Linked DNA regions of Homo sapiens. The protein of the gene in region 3 interacts with the protein of the main gene of each other region in a pairwise test. Each region holds a gene or a part of one and is shown on either strand. Other genes may lie near its edges.

Region 1 (7,037 bases), on a different chromosome or scaffold from region 3:
ATGGCAGTTTCCCAAGCTCGGCTGCACAGGGAAAACACCCGGGGAGCTACGAAACACACTGATGCCTGAGTCCCCCACCTAGAATTGGTTGAACTGGTCTAGGAGAGCCTGGGTATCAGAACTGTATAAGTTCCCCAAGTAATTCCAATGCGGGACCATGGCTTTACTACTACAGGCTTGGTTGATGGCCAATTCCCAATCTCCAGCCTCTTCCTGTCATGTTGGAGTCAACTATCCTATGTCCCTCTCTCCATCTTCCCAAGATTTAAAAACCTTTCTCATGGCTTCCCAAATTGGAAAACTCTCTGGAATCCAGCGTGGATGAGCAACTGAACAAAATGGCTTTGGGAGGGAATGATGGGAGCTGGGGCCTACCAGTCACCTGCTCTTCAGCCTAATACTGCTCTGTGGGAAAACTTGGTCCATTTCCCCCAGGGCTCCTCAACACACACCCCTGGGTCAGACGTTCTGGGAGGGAATAGGCAGCATTCCTCACTCTACAGAACACCCAATGAGCATCCTGTCTTTCATGGCTAATACCAAAGTTGACAATCAATGAGGGTCAATGCTTTCCTGTCATTACAGAAACTTCCCATCACCAGAATCCCTTCATGGGAGGGATGGATGCCTGTTGAAACTCACTGACCTATTGGACTGACGCTGGGGTGGTATCTTCATCAGAGCTATTGTAAGTCATCCAAAAGGCTTCTGACGAAAGAACAATTTTTAAAAAGTCCCTCTTTTCAATCAAGCCAATGTCCTATTTTATTTCTAAAAGTTTTGGGACTCGTGCTGTTATCAAGTACAATGAAAATGGCTTTATAAATAGCTGTTTTGACATTGTGATAGAAGGCTTGAATTCGGAGGAAAGATGTCGCTGGAGCTAGTCCTGAGTTCCGACTGTCCCTGTGGTGGGAATCCAGTCTGGGAAAGCAGGACTGTTTTAGCAAACGTGTACTCGTTCTATAAAAATGGAATCTGTTCTGCAGGTTACCGTCCCTCCCCGCCCAAGCATCCCCTCTGTCCTGTCTCTCTGCTGCTGGGACCCAGGGCTTTTTCAGCTGCAGAACCCACTGGACTTCCAGGAATCAAGGAAAAAGTGGAAATGTCCAACTGTGTTGTCTCTAAATGGTTCCATTGTCTGGGAACTGAAACCCTCCATGCTTCACCCTGAACTGTTATTTCTAGAGGAAGCAGGGAGCCTCTGGCTCTTCTAAAAATTGCCAGTGGGAGCTCTGGCCTCACCCACAGGCGGAGCTTGGTGAAGTCAGGATGAATGATGCCGTCACAGGTTCATGGTTCATGGAAGGAAAGGTAACCAACCTTGTCCTGTCTAGGATGCCAGATGAGAAAGAGTATCCCAACGTGACGGTGACATTGAGGCTTGACGTTATTTATGGGTGAGCAAGAATGTTCATTAGATGTAGACTCTCAAAGGGCTAAAAAAAACCATGCTCTCACTTCTAGACAAGTTTGCAACAACCTCTAAGCTGGCACTCCATAACAAGACTGTTCCACAATACTACAAACAAAATAGCATGTAGCTTGTTCCCTCCTCCCTCCCCCCCAAACCCTCCCCACAGAAAACGTGTCTCCCTCCAAAGCCATTCTCCATTTAGAAAGGCCCAACTAAGGATTCAAAATGGCACCCACGTGCCGACGATAGATTCAAAATGGCGCCTGCGTGCCCATGACGCACGTCACGGGAGCCAGCGGCCAGCCCCCTCACCAGCAGTCAGCCCCAACCCCACCCTGGCGCTTTGATTTCCAGTTTGGGAAATTCATACCAATGGAATCCGATGTAAGCAATCCACCATCAGCTCACTGATGCTCTCTTGCCCTTCCACACTTCGAGAAGACCTGAAATGTGGTGTCCATTCCCCTCTTTATTCAAAAGAGGACCTTCAAAAATATTCACCTAACTAGGAATTTAAAGAACACAAGAAATTGTTGGTATATTTCACTTCAGGTAACTGCCCTAAAATTAAAACCTCCAATTTATGCAAAAAAAGAAAAGATGGTGCTTCAATTTACAAAAGGATTCATTTCAGGGTTATCTCTAGTTGTCTGGTTTCCCCAATGGCTGGCCTTGCCAAATGATTTGCTGTAGGAAAATTTGAACTGCACCCAATTTTCCAGGAGCACCTTAGTGTAATATGGCATATTGATCACAGACGATAGACAAGTCTTAGGCAGGTTTATGCAAAAAATGCTGCAACCACCCAGTGATCATCGGAGGGAAAAAAGCTTGACTTACTGTGGTCTAAAATTGCTTCGGTGGCCTACATGCCCATGAACCAGCTTCAAAAGCAATTCACATTGGTCATGATGACACACACCTGCAGTCCCAGCTACTCAGGAGGCCGAGGTGGGAGGATCTCTTGAGCCCAAGAGCTTGAGATGAGCCTTGGCAACATAGTGAGATGCTGTCTTTTTTTTTCTTTTCTTTTTTTTTAAAAAAGCAATTCAAACCTAATTCTTCCCTTTCTTCCTCCTCCCACCCAACCCGCCTGCTTCTCAAGATGAGCCTTGGCAACATAGTGAGATGCTGTCTTTTTCTTTTCTTTTTTTTTTAAAAAGCAATTCAAACCTAATTCTTCCCTTTCTTCCTCCTCCCACCCAACCCGCCTGCTTCTCAGTGGCAACAAACTCAAGTTGCTCATCATGCTACCTTGCACATATCTACAAGACACCATTTACTTCCTAACTGCCTTGACATCTGCATGCTACGGTGCTCAGCTGTTTGACATCAACATAAATATATTCTAAATCCACTGTAACTAGACTTTTTGTACTTTCATACTCTGAAGAAAGTCTTAATAAATACTTTATTATTAAGCATAATTATTCATCTGTTGGTGACTGAGAAATGAAAACCACACCTTCGAAGATTTCTTTTAAAAAATGAAATTCCTTTAACTACAACAACGACAACAAAGGGACAAGTACACAGAACCAGGCACTTCTGGGAAACTTGTCTTCTCATCCCTTTGCCCTCCCTTCCTCCCCCTTTAGTAAAGCTGGTTGGGCACATTTGCTAGGATCTGTGGGTTTCATCACTTCAAGCCTTACTGCTTAAAAAAATGAGGTAAGAAATTTCTATCGGAAAAGTGAAACTGACACATAAACCAAACCAAGGTCTTCCCTGGCTGCTGCGGCAGCCGTTATTGCTCTAAGTTGGAGTGTTCTGTTTGCTTTTATTATGTATTCGGAGTCCTTATTGCCATTCTGGCTGGCCTCGTCGTTGGCCAAGGAGAAATGATGGGGAAGGAGCTCGGTCGCCTGCTCCCAGCTGCTCAGTCCCAACTTTCTGCCCGCATGCGGCCCGTCCTACCCTTGCTGGGAGCCAGCTCTGGTTCTGGGGCCCCCAGGGCGGCTCTAACAGCTGGGAGAGGTGGTGATGGGGCTGTGCAGGTAGGGCAGGCTGCTGGGGGCCGAGTGCACGCCCACGGAGACCGGAAAGCTGAAGACGAACTGCGAGGTGGGGGTGGCGGGGGTCTTGCCCCGCTCCCGCAGGGGTCCCGAGGGGCTAGCAGCCTCCGCAGCACAGGACGTGGCCAGCACCTGGGACTCGAACTGCAGCAGCTGCCCCATGAAGCTGAAGTTGGGCGAGATGATGCTGCGGCGCTGCTTAACGAACTCGAAGGCCTCCTCCAGCCTCACCCGTTTCTTCATCATCAGGTAGGCCAGGCAGATGGTGGCCGACCGCGAGATGCCCGCCTGGCAGTGCACCAGCACGCGCCCACGGCAGTCCTTCACGGCATCTGGGGACAGGGTTCAATAGGTTAGTGCACGTTTCTGCAGACCCCAGCCCCGACCAGGGGCACCGGCCAGCCCCTGGGGTCGGGGGGCTCTGAAGGAAGGACTAGCCGTGCTAGACCAAGGACTGGAGAGGAAGAAAACCCATGTAGGCAGGTCTCTAGAATGCCCCCAATTCTGAGGTCTATTTTCCCGAATCACTATGCTGAAGCTGGTTAAATCCTATTATCTGTTCAAGGATTTCCCTTTGCAGAAACAAAACAGTGGGGTCCAGGGTGGTGGCTCACTCCTGTAATCCCAGCGCTTTGGGAGGCCAAGGAGGGTGGATAACTTGAGCTCAGGAGTTCAAGACTAGCCTGGGCAATATGATGAAACTGTCTCTACAAAAATACAAAAATTAGCTGGGCGTGGTGGTGCACTTGTAGTCCCAGCTACTCCAGAGGCTGAGGCAGGAGAATCACTTGCACCCCAGAAGCGGAGGTTGCAGTGAGCTGAGATGGCGCCACTGCACTCCAGCCTGGGCAACAGAGCAAGGCTCTGTCTCAAAATAAATAAATAAATAGAAATAAAATAAAAACTATGACTCAATGCTCCTTGTGTCTTCCTCCCCGTCCAAAAACTCTTACCATCTAGGCACTGAAGCCATGCAAGGGGAAGGGGACTGGCTCTGCAAGCTAAGCCTGTGTGTAGGTCCATCTTCCCTCCTCCCTCCCAACCCAACATCCAATGTATAAGCCTTCCCAATGAGGAAGAGGGGGAATGGGGACCCTTGGATTCAGTGCCTCCAATGTCCACCTTCAACCCAGGCTTACAGGGGTTCCTTATCCTTCCCACCCGCCCTCAAACCCAGGAACCCCAGAGCAGGGCCAGCCTACCGATGTACTCTATGGCTTCCATGAACCAGGAGCTGATGTCGGCCTTGTGGTTATCTTCCACTGGGATGCACTTGTACTGATAGTGTCCTTCAAAGTGGTTTGGGCAGTCCGAGGAGACATTCAACAGAGCCGTGATGCCCAGGGCGTCCAGCATGTCTCTCCGGGCAGCATGGTAGGCACTGCCGAGGTAGAGGAAGGGAAGGATCTCCACAGGACCCCCCTGCACAGAAAGGGAAACAAAGGCCCCTGAATGACATGAGGGTAAAGTGCTTGGCACAGGGAGTGGAAGCTTGTCTGAGAAGAGCTTTCCTTTCCAAACCCAGGGAGAATGCCTGCTGGGCCTGGCCCTCCCAGCCTCCCCCTGTAGCCTCCTGGAACTCTTGGAGGGGTGATAGGCCCAGTGGGACTTCTCCAGCCTTTGCCCTCTACTTGTGAGCAGAGAGGCCAGGGCAGGTAAAGTCTTGTGGGACTCTCCTGCACCTCCCCCATGGCAAAATAAGCGGCAGGACAATGCCGGCCTTATGGCACCATCTGTGACACTGAGTTTATATCTGCTAATCATCAAGCCATTTGCTGTGTGGTTTAGATACTTATTTGTTTTGATATGTATTCACTGGGCATATCAAAAACAGGTGTGCAGTGGCTCACACCTGTAATCTCAGCACTTTAGGAGGCTGAGGTGGCAGGATCATGTGAGCCAGGAGTTCCAAGACCAGCATGGGCAACACAGTGAGACCTCATCTCTCAAACAATGAAGCTGGCATGATGGTGCACACCTGTAGTCTCAGTTGCTTGGGAGGCTGAAATGGGAGGATCATTTGAGCCCAGGACTTTGAAGCTGCAGTGAGCTATGATTGCGCCACAGGACTCAAGCCTGGGTAACAGAGTGAGACTCTGTCTCTAAAAATAAACAAATAAATAAGCTGATGCCCTCATGGCCACACAGACAAGAGAGAGGATCTTGGCAAAATGAGGCAACAGTGGCTTAAATTTAGCACATGAGATGTGGGCAGCAGAGTCCATCTAACTGAAAGGGCTGGAGGGTGGGCTTATAAGAAACACAGTGGCTCAAGCAGGTTTTCTTGGAGGGAGGGTGGGTGACCATCTATGTTCATTCGGCTGATACGTGGGAGCAGCCTGCCTGTCGGGGACTGAGATGTATTTCATGGCCTGCTACTTCAGAGGAGAATGACCTCAGCTTCCCAGAGAGCAGGTCCCCCAGGGCTTCTGGAGGCCTCCTCACTTGTCCGGACACGACGTTAGAGGCCAAGCCAGGGAGTCATGTCTTTAGACTTTTTTCTTAGGAGGATATTTAGAGAGGGAAGGGGAAGATTTCCAAGAAGTAAATAGGTCCTACCTAACATCCCACCCCAATACTCCGGGTTCACCGCATTCTCCCCAAATTGAGGCATAACATTCAAAGACTTAAAAAAATCTCAGGATTGGATGCAGTGGCTCACGCCTGTGATCCCAACACTTTGGGAGGCCAAAGCAGGAGGATCACTTGAGGCCAGGAGTTCAAGACCAGCCTGGGCAACATAGCAAGACCCCCCCCCCCCATCTCTACCAAAAACCTTTTAAAATTAGCCAGGCATGGTAGTGCCACCTGTAGTCCCAGCTACCAGGGAGGATCCCTTGAGCCCAGGAGTTCGAGGCTGCAGTAAGCTATGATCACACCACTGCACTCCTGGGTGACAGAGCAAGACTGTCTCAAAAGCAAAGACAAAAAACACCGTCAGAACTCTGAAAAGAAGGCATCCACTGGCCCCTACGCTGTTCCTGCCCCCCACTTCCAAGCCCTGCCCCCCGAGTCTACCTGGTCGTGTAGTGGGGTCCCACAGGAGCTGCAGCCCAGGTCCAAGGGCTCTGTGGCACTGGGGGGAACCGGGGGTGGGATGGCTGCCAGGGCCTTGGTTTTAGAACAGAATTCTGGGTACTCGGAGGAAAACCTCTCATAGCCGCCTGTAAAGGAGAAAGAAGCTCAGGTTAATGGGGTCACTAAGCCAGCAGGAAGTCAGAAAGAACTCGACTCCTACAGACTCAGGCGGACTGCTAGGAAGGCAGGGGCTGGCGTGCTCCATATTGGCCACTAGGTGGCGCTGTGGACCTAGAGAATGGCCATGGAGTGGTTTCCAGAGATGCAGAGGACACACTCGTCAGGACTGCAGCAAAGCTGGAAGGATAAGCTTTATGGACAAGACTTGGGTTAGAGAGGTAGACATACAAAGGAAGACGTGCAGGGGGATGTGCAGAAGTGACTGTGGAGTAGCTCCTCAGGACAATGACAAAATAGAGAAGCAAAGGTCACGCTGGGCTTCCAAGGACACTAAGTACCTGTAGAGACACCTGCCACCCCTGATTCCAGCCCTTCCTCAGGGGAGGTTCTCCAATGTGAGAAAGAAG
Region 2 (2,949 bases), on a different chromosome or scaffold from region 3:
GAATTTGCTTCTGGACGTGTTGAGATGCTATTCAGACCTTCAAGTGGAATCCTGAGCCCCTTGGAGCCTCAGCTCCTCACCTGCAAAATGGGGGTAGCCAGGCTTACCTGGCATGTGGCTGAGGGGATTTCCTGAGAGGTGAGAGGTGGCAGGTGTGGGGTCAAGGGCAGTGAGGAGCAGGGGTGGGGCTGGGGTGGAGAAGGGCCTCTCAGAACAGCCCACTCCCTCCTCAGCCACGCAGGTCAGGTGGATGTGTCTGGCAGTCCAGTAAGGAGCTCATGGCGGGGGCCTGAGATCCGGGCCTACTCCTTGCCATGGGACCCATCCCAATGCCTCCGTGCTTCTGTTTCTCATCTGACAGTGGAGCTGGGCTGTGGGCCTCAGCACAACTGCGAGGAGCTAGCAGGAGGCTTGCAGGTGCCTGGGCAGGCAGCAGGCACTGTCACACACATCCCTGCTGAAGTGGAGATCCCACCTGCCCCCAGCCCTGGGGGGGGTCACAGACCCCCTGGACCACACAACTCTTATGGCAGAGGCTGTCACAAAGCATTAATACTTTTATTCCCATCAGTGATGCTGACGGGCCTGACCCTTTATAGAGAAAAACATTAGGAAAACAGAAGTGGGCAGGGACCCTGGGAGCCTCCATTCTCAATGCCCCACCCTTTACCTCTCTGCCAGTGTCAGCGCCTTCAAACCAGAAGGTATGGGGATGGCCTGGTGGGGTGGGCCACACATGGGGCTCCCCAGGCAAGGCCACCTGCTGACAGAGGTGAAGGCGAGGGCAGGGAAGCCAGGGCCCAGCAAAGCTCTTCTGGCGCAGGCAGCATACGGAGAAGGGCGACGGGTGGGTTGTTCTCCTTGGTTACTGGTCCTGGGCTTTCAGTGCCCTGCGGCAGCCTCACGGGGGCCCCTGCTGGCTCCGCCTCTCCTCCAGCGCCCGGCACACCCACATGGACACCACGGCGGCATTTCCATCATTGAACTGCACGATGAACGGGTGGCCCTGCGGGGAAGAGGAGGAGGCTGTGACAGGCAGTCCTCGGACTCCCGCGCTCATTGTACTTTCCAGGGCCTGCCCTCAGCCTGGATCTGATCTCTTTCCCCAGTAACCCTGTGAGGTAACGAGGGAGGCTATCAGCTCCATTTCACGGCCTAGATAATTGAGGCCCAGGGACGAGCAGTGACATACTGGTAGTCAGCACCAAGCGTGTGGAGTGCTGGCTGGCACATCTCAGACTCTGCCACCTCTTCCTGAGGCTCGCACTAGCCTGGAAGGTGCTTAAGGGCGAGGGCCTGTCTTCGCTGCACACTCTGCCTGGCCCTTCCTCTGCCCGGCATCACTCGCACGGCCAGTCAGCCGAGGCCTGGCACTGTGTTGCCAGCTTTCCGGTTCAGTTGGTGCCCAGAGACCAAAGAATCATCTCGTCAGAGGCTATGTCAATCCCTTTTAGCTTTCTCCTTTGTCTACAGCTCTCCTATAAAAAGAAGTCACCACCTGCAATTGGAGGGAAGGCAAACATGTCAGGGGAAGTGGGGAGGGGGAGGAATGTGCTGGGCTGTGCACAGGATCTCTGGGTTCCTGGTGAGAAGTTCCATTGGGGGCTGGACTCTGGAGGGGCCGGCCCTGTTGCCCTGTGGCCTGCCTCTGGTTCTAACCCACTTATCACACAGGCAGACCAGATTCTATTTAGCCAGTTCTCTTCTCTGCTGTCCTGAAGCACCAAGATTTACATCCACAATCTTAGGGCCTCCTGGGAATTCCCAGGGAAGGTCAGAAAAAAGCAGGGACAACCCCAGGGTTACCAGGCCACAGTCAGAGGTGAAAGGAAAAGTGAAAAGCCTTCTTTTTCTTCCTCTTCACCAAGTGGCTTCTTGCCCAGGAACTTACACCAAGTGGCTTCCTCTCCTACCCAAAACTGTGCAGCTTGCATGGTGAGACTCGGGGAGCCATAGCGAGGACAGAGAATGGGGGAGATGAGGGCGCCATGTGCCTGCCCCCAGCTCTTCTCCCTCCCTGTCCAGCGGCCGCTTCCTCGCTCCCCCCAGCTCTCTCCTCCCTCCAGCTTCCTCAGCCCCTCTTGGGCCTGTCCTCCACCTGCACAGGCTGGGCTTTCAGGGTTGCTTTCCCAGCACACCCCAGCCTTGACTGCAGCCCTAGAGAGGCTGCTTAAAGAGCCGCATGGCCTCGCCACGAGCTCATCACAAAGCCAGGAGGGATGTGGACCCTGGCTGTCCCAACCTCAGCGCCTGCAGGGGCTGTCAAGGACCAGGCCTGGGTAGAGCAGGGGACGGCATGGCCCCTCTGGACCACAGGTCAGAACTGTGGGGGACAGGAGAATGCTCAGGCCGCCTCATCCTAGGCTGATGCAGTGCCCGCCCCCAACCTTCTCATTCGAGGTTGGGAAACCTGCCCTGGGGACACCCTGCGTGGGTCTATCTCAGAGGCACACAGAGCACTGTCAGAGCTGCGAGGAGGAGGAGGAAACTCGGCTTCGAAGATGCCAAGGCACTCAACCCCGGGCAGGGACCCGCTGAGACTGGGGTGGAGCTAGGCCTGGAGCCCAGCTGGGTACTTCCCATAATCTGCTCATAGCACTCTGGGAGGCTCCTGACACACCTGCAGGACCCCTAAGGGCACAGGGGCCATGGAGGCCAGGCTGGGTGTGGCCCTGTGGATGGCAGAGGTTTGGTCTGGGGCCTGAGCAGGAGAGGCCCAGGAAGGACTGGATTTTGGCTTCCAAGTGTTCTCCTCCCCATATATATGCCCACCCCACGGCTGCTTTCCCAAATCGCTGCCTAGACAGAGGAAATCCTTCCCAAAGTCCAAGCGTGCACACTTCCTCTCAGGAGGCTCAGGAGGGGCGACCTCGTGCCCTTCTAAAGAACAAAGGGAGAAGCTGTGCTCACGAGTGACGGGCCCCTCCCCCCACGCCCGGGGTAACACAG
Region 3 (7,196 bases):
CGAGACTACCCTGGACAACACAGTGAACATAAACTCCCCATCTCTACAAAAAAATTTTTTTAATCAGCCAGGCATGGTGGCATGTGCCTGCAGTCCCAGGTACTTGGGAGGCAGAGGTGGGAGGATTGCTTGAGCCCAACAGTTTGAGGCTGCAGTGAGCTATGAATGCACCACTGCACTCCAGCCTGGACAAAAGAGCGAGACTTTGTATAAGAAAAAAAAAAAAAAGAAAAGAAAGAAAATGCAAACATACAACCTACTACCATACAATGCCAGAGCAGTCCTAAACGTGATGATGAGCTGTGCTGCCCATCAGGAAAAGTACAATAGTCTCATTTCACACATAAGGAAACATATACCCAGAGCATGGGACTCTATCATGCTGATTAGAATTCATGAAGGAGATTATGCAGTACCTCTTTCCAAAATTCACAGGCAGAGCCTGACTCACAAGACAGCACGTTCTGGCACCCCTCAGCACCTCCCAAATGAATCAGCAACATGACCAGCTGCCCAAACCACTAGACCCTATATTGTGTAAAGGGAACCTAGAACAGGATATCCTAAAAAGAGCAACAGAGCTTACCATGGGACAAATCAGCAGCTGCCATCCCGCGAGGTGAGAACGTGTCAGAACCCTCCTTTCATTGATGTCACCATCACTTCAGGACACCTCATTAATCTAAATGGACAGTGGCAATCTCCATTCCTCTTTAAACAGGGTTATTGGGATTCCTGTTGGTATTAATCAATAATCAACAAGCAGTACTTAATCATCAGCCATCAAACATATACACCGGCTGGGGCAGTAGCTCATGCCTGTAATCCCAGCATTTTGGGAGGCCAGGGTGGGAGGACTGCTTCAGCCTAGAAGTTTGAGACCAGCCTGGGCAACATAGCAAGACCCTATCTCTAAAGAAACAAAAATAAAAATAAGTAAACAAACAAAAAAAAATGAAGTGGTAAACCAGAACCTGAATGCAAGTACAAGTTTTGCACACACACATAGAAAAAATAATCTCACAATACACTTTTAAGTATTGGGTAGCCTCAACTGGGCCTTGATTGGAAACACTCAAATCAAATCTGCATCCCCAGCTCACACTGTCAGAGAGGCAAGGCCAAACCACTCTGTGCCTAACACTGGTCTGTTTTATGGGTCTTCAAAGAGAACTACCTTTTCATAGTATTTATCTGGTTAATTTTTTTCCACCAAAGTTTGGTTTTATTTGGCTGGGCAGGGTGGCTCACGCCTGTAATCCCAGCACTTTGGGAGCCTGAGGCCAGAAGATCATGAGGTCAGGAGTTCAAGACCGGCCTAACCAACACGGTGAAACTCCATCTCTACTAAAAATACAAAAATTAGCCGGGCGTGGTGTGCGGCTGTAATCCCAGCTACTCAGGAGGCTGAGGCAGGAGAATCGCTTGATCCTGGGAAATGGAAGTTGCAGGGAGCTGAGATCACACCACTGCACTCCAGCCTAGGTGACAGAGCAAGACTCTGTCTCAAAAAAAAAATAATAATAATAATAATGACAATCATTAATTAATCAAACATGAAACAGTGGCTCAAACAATCACCTACAGAATGGGAGTCAAATGATGATAAACAGTGAAAGTTCCGCAGTTCATTATCCATGAACCAAATTCACAAAAACTCTATAGGCCTCCTTCTACCAATAAGACTAAAACCCTAAAGTCACAAAAACCACAGTTCTGGACTCCTGGTATAGATCACACCTACTCCCAGGGGTCTCAAACTAGGGGTCCTAGGGCTGACTAGGCCCACAAATATTCAGTTTGGTGGCATCTGTATAGAATATTTAACTCTTTTTTTTTTTTTTTTTTTGGAGAGATGGAGTCTTGCTATGTTGCCCAGGCTGGTCTTAAACTCCTGGGCTCAAGAGATCTTCCTGCCTCAGCCTCTCAAAGTGCTGGGATCACAGGTGTGAGCCACTGTACCCAGCCAGCTTTTTTTTTTTTTCATTGATATACAATCAATGTAGCTTAAAATGCACACATCCTTCGTTTCTCTTTTTTTTCTTTTGAGACGGAGGCTCACTCTGTCTCCCAGGCTGGAGTGCAGTGGCACGATCTCAGCTCACTGCAACGTCCGCCTCCTGGGTTCAAGTGATTCTCCTGCCTTAGTCTCCCAAATAGCTGAGATTCCAAGACCCCACCACCACGCTCGGCTAATTTTTTTTCTATTTTTAGTAGAGACGGGGTTTCACCATCTTAGCCAGGCTGGTTTCAAACTCCTTAATCCAACCATCCTGTTCATTGTAAATTTGATTATTGTGATACTAGAATAATAAAGCCTTCATCCTTTCCCTCTGGAGGTCTGATTAAGAAGCTCTCTTGGGATGTACAGGCCTAGGAACTCCATTCGAAGATAATGAATTATTATTCTTAGTATTCTTTAGCAGAAAGACTTGCGGTCTACAAACGTTTATATTCACATACACAAATACGCACACCCTATAAACCTAAAAAGCATCTTTATCTTTCGCCATGAAAGTAATGGTCAAAAATAAAACACAACACAATAAGACGAAACCAAACTTACAGATGAAACATTCGTTTGCATAAGAGAAGACAGAAAAGGCCCCCTAGAACCAACTTTCACCCAGTGCTCACCGGAACACTCAGAAATCGCCAGGTCCCTGAACCGGGAAGATCCTGGGGACGGAGCCAACGCGGATGCAAAAGGCAGCAATTATTTTCCTGCCGGAAAAAAATTCACAAACGCTGCTTTGGAGGCCTTTGGAGAGGGGCGCACAGATGAAAACACCCTGCGGACACCGTAACTATAAACCCGACTCCTCCCGAGGAGCGACGGTCCGAGCGGACGCTAGCGGGCCCAGCAGACACGAGCAGAGCGGGCCAGGCCTCTCTAACGTCCGGGCCAAACCCGTCCTTCACCCCAAAACCAGTTCATCTCCTCGGAACTCACCCAGGCCAGTGAGGCCTTAACTCTGAAAGGCAAAAAGACTCTCAGGCGCTCACAGCCGGCGTCACAAAAGGAACGGCGCACCGCTGACGTCATTTACGCTCTCCGCCTCGGGCCAGGCGGGGTTTCGGGACTAGGGTTTCTGCCGTGTAATACCTCCTCGAGGCAGAAAAATTCTACTTTCCATCTGCTTGGCTGCGGAGGACCTTGGGGTGGGCTCAGCGTGGGGGCTGCAGGCAGAAATGGGTCCAGAAGGCAAGGTCGAGGTTAGAGCCAAGCCTGTGGGCAGGGCTACGGGCAGGGGGCGGGGAGGAATGTGGGTCCAGGCCCAGAGGAAAAGGTTGAAGTTATAGCCAGGCCTGTGGGCGAGGCCGCAGCAGGGCGGCCATAGGGGAAGGAGCCAATGTGTTATGCATGTAGAAAATAGGTAACTACGTCTTTTGCTCTGTTACTATTTCAACATTTGATGTAAAAAACATTTTCTATGCAGCTAAAAGAATTGTTTTTAAAAATAATTTCTAGGTTTTCTGCCTTGCTTTAAAACATCTTTTCTTTTTTTTTGAGACAAAATCTCACTCTGTCACCAAGGCTGGAGTTCAGTGGAGCCATCTCAGCTCACTGCAACCTCCACCTCCCAGGTTCAAGCGATTCTCCTGCCTCATCCTCCCAAGTAGCTGGAATTACAGGTGCATGCTGCCACACCCTGCTAATTTTTGTATTTTTAGTAGAGGCAGGGTTTTGCCATGCTGGCCAGGCTGGTCTTGAACTACTTGTCAGGCCTCTGAGCCCAAGTTAAATCATCATAAACCCTGTCACCTGCACGTATACATCCAGATGGCCTGGAGCAACTGAAGAACCACAAAAGAAGTGAAACAGCCAGTTCCTGCCTTAACTGATGACGTTCCACCATTGTGATTTGTTGCTGCCCCACCCCAACTGATCTCTTGACCTTGTGACATTCTTCTTCTGGACGAGTCTCAGGAGTTCCCCACCGAGCACCTTGTGACCCCCGGCCCTGCCAGCAAAAGATAACCACCTTTAACTTTCCACTACCTACCCAAATCCTATAAAACTGCCCCACCCCTATCTCCCTTTGCTGACCCCTTTCTCGGACTCAGCCCACTTGCACCCAAGTGAATAAACAGCCTTGTTGCTAACACAAAGCCTATTGGTGGTCTCTTCACATGGATGTGTGTAACATTTGGTTCCGAAACCTGGGACAGGGGGACTCCCTTGGGAGACTGGCCCCGTCCTCACCCTCACTCCGTGAGGAGCTCCACCTACTACCTCGGGTCCTCAGACTAGCCCAAGGAACATCTCACCAATTTCAAATTGGGTAAGCAGTCTCTTCACTCTCTTCTCCAGCCTCTCTCACTACCCTTCCATCTCTCTGTCCTTCCAATTCCAGTTCTTTTTCCTCTCCAGTAGAGACAAAGGAGACACATTTTATCTGTGGACCCAAAACTCCAGCTCCAGTCACGGACTCAGGAAGACAGTCTTTCCTTGGTGGCTAATCACTGTAGGGATACCTGCCTGATTATTCACCTACATTCCATTGGTGTCTGATCACTGTGGGGATGCCTGCCTTGATCATTCACCCACATTCCCTTGGTGGCAAGTCAATTGCAGGGCTGCCTGCTTTGGCTGCTTACCCACATTACAGCCCAGGGCTGCTCACCCCCACCCCACTCCACTGCCTTCTCCATGTCTCTACCTTTCTCTTTAAACTTACCTCCTTCACTATGGGCAATCTTCTGCCCTCCATTCCCTGTTCTTCTCCCTTAGCCTGTGTTCTCAAGAACTTAAAACCTATTCAACTCACACCTGACCTAAAACCTAAATACCTTATTTTCTTCTGCAACACCACTTGGCCCCAGTACAAACTTGACAATGGTTCTAAATGGCCAGAAAATGGCACTTTTGATTTCTCCATCCTACAAGATCTAGATAATTTTTGTCATAAAATGGGCAAATGGTCTGAGATGCCTGACATCCAGGCATTCTTTACACATTGGTCCGTCCCTAGTCTTTGCTCCCAATGTGACTCATCCCAAATCTTTCTTGTTTCTTTCTTGTCCTTTGAATCCTCCTTTTCTATGGACCCATCTGACCTCTCCCCTCCCCCTCAGGCTGCTCCTCGCCAAGCTGAGCCAGGTCCTAACGTATCCAGAATTGGTGGGTTCTTGGTCTCACTGACTTCAAGAATGAAGCCGTGGACCCTCGCGGTGAGTGTTACAGTTCTTAAAGGCGGCGTGTCTGGAGTTTGTTCCTTCTGATGTTCGGATGTGTTCAGAGTTTCTTCCTTCTGGTGGGTTTGTGGTCTCGCTGGCTCAGGAGTGAAGCTACAGACCTTTGCGGTGAGTGTTACAGCTCTTAAAGGCAGCATGGACCCAAAGAGTAAGCAGTAGCAAGATTTATTGCAAAGAGCAAAAGAACAAAGCTTCCACAGCGTGGAAGGGGACCCAAGGGGGTTGCCACTGCTGGCTCAGTAGCCTGCTTTTATTCTCTTATCTGGCCCTACCCACATCCTGCTGATTGGTAGAGCCGAGTGGTCTGTTTTGACAGGGTGCTGATTGGTGTGTTTACAAACCTTGAGCTAGATACAGAGTGCCAATTGGTGTTTCCACAATCCCTGAGCTAGACATAAAGGTTCTCCACATCCCCACCAGACTCAGGAGCCCAGCTGGCTTCACCCAGTGGATCCCGCACTGGGGCTGCAGGTGGAGCTGCCTGCCAGTCCCGCGCCATGTGCCCGCACTCCTCAGCCCTTGGGTGGTTGATGGGACTGGGCACCATGGAGCAGGGGGGAGCTCTCATCAGGGAGGCTCGAGCTGCACAGGAGCCCATGGAGGGGGTGGGAGGCTCAGGCATGGCGGGCTGCCAGTCTTGAGCCCTGCCCTGTGGGAAGGCAGCTAAGGCCTGGCGAGAAATCAAGCGCAGCACCAGTGGGCTGGCACTGCTAGGGGACCCAGTACACCCTGTGCAGCTGCTGGCCTGGGTGCTAAGCCCCTCATTGCCTGGGGCCAGCAGGGCCGGCCAGCTGCTTCGAGTGCAGCCGCCAAGCCCACGCCCACCTGGAACTCCAGCTGGCCCGCAAGCACCATGCACAGCCCCAGTTCCCGCTCGCGCCTCTCCCTCCACACCTCCCTGCAAGCTGAGGGAGCTGGCTCCAGCCTTGGCCAGCCCAGAAAGGGGCTCCCACAGTGCAGCAGTGGGCTGAAGGGCTCCTCAAGTGCCGCCAAAGTGGAAGCTCAGGCAGAGGAGGCGCCAAGAGTGAGCGAGGGCTGTGAGGACTGCCAGCACGCTGTCACCTCTCACTAATTCTTCCTCAGCCTCTGCTCCCTACCCTGTGATCTTTCTATCACCTCCCCTTCTCACACCCGGTCCAGCTTACAGTTTCATTCCATGACTAGCCCTCCCCCACCTGCCCAACAATATCCTCTTAGAGAAGTGGCTGGAGCTGAAGGCATAGTCGAGGTTAATGCTCCTTTTTCTTCATCCAACCTCTCCCAAGTCAGTTAGCATTTAGGCTCTTTTTCATCAAGTATAAAAACCCGGCCCAGTTCATGGCCTGTTTGGCAACAACCCTTAGACAGTTTACCACCCTAGAACCAGAGAGGCCAGAAGGCCATCTTATTCTCAATATGCATTTTATTCTCAATATGCATTTTATTACCCAATCTGCTCCCAAGACTAGAAAAAGCTCCAAAAATTAGATTCTGACCCTCAACCCCCACAACAGGACTTAATTAACCTCACCTTGAAGGTGTACAATAATAGAGAAGAGGCAGCCAAGTGGCGTTGTATTTCTGAGTTGCAATTACTTGCCTCTGCTGTGAGATAAACCCCAGCCACATCTCCAGCACATAAGAACTTCAAAATGCCTAAACCACAGAGGCCAGGTGTTCCTCCAGGACCTCCTCCCTCAGGTTCTTGCTTTAAGTGCTGGAAATCTGGCCACTGGGCCAAGGAATGCCCGCAGCCCAGGATTCCTCCTAAGCCATGTCCCATCTGTGGGACCCCACTTGAAATCGGACTGTCCAACTCACCTGGCAGCCACTACCAGAGCCACTGGAACTCTGGCCCAAGGCTGTCTGACTGACTCCTTCCCAGATCTTCTCGGCTTAGCAGCTGAAGACTGACACTGCCCGATCACCTCGGGAGCCTCCTGGACTATCACAGATGCTTTGGGTAACTCTTACAGTGGAGGGCAAGTCTGTCCCCTTCTTAATCAATACAGAGGCTA

What was found.
Region 1: the proteins of ZNF426 (region 3) and DUSP4 interact in binary tests that used the Homo sapiens proteins (3 or more experiments, as listed by UniProt).
Region 2: the proteins of ZNF426 (region 3) and MAP2K5 interact in binary tests that used the Homo sapiens proteins (3 or more experiments, as listed by UniProt).

Annotation. Positions count from the first base shown.
Region 1 is NC_000008.11:29,333,648-29,340,684, forward strand, and holds part of DUSP4 (dual specificity protein phosphatase 4), read right to left. Parts: intron 6,597-7,037; coding exon 6,451-6,596; intron 4,855-6,450; coding exon 4,635-4,854; intron 3,765-4,634; coding exon 3,379-3,764; 3' UTR 1-3,378. UniProt on the Homo sapiens protein: Regulates mitogenic signal transduction by dephosphorylating both Thr and Tyr residues on MAP kinases ERK1 and ERK2.
Region 2 is NC_000015.10:67,804,703-67,807,651, reverse strand, and holds the end of MAP2K5 (dual specificity mitogen-activated protein kinase kinase 5), read right to left. Parts: intron 1,007-2,949; coding exon 902-1,006; 3' UTR 538-901; downstream 1-537. UniProt on the Homo sapiens protein: Acts as a scaffold for the formation of a ternary MAP3K2/MAP3K3-MAP3K5-MAPK7 signaling complex.
Region 3 is NC_000019.10:9,535,622-9,542,817, forward strand, and holds the start of ZNF426 (zinc finger protein 426), read right to left. Parts: upstream 3,025-7,196; 5' UTR 2,954-3,024; exon of another isoform or gene 2,725-2,953; 5' UTR 2,638-2,724; intron 736-2,637; 5' UTR 612-735; coding exon 587-611; intron 1-586. UniProt on the Homo sapiens protein: May be involved in transcriptional regulation.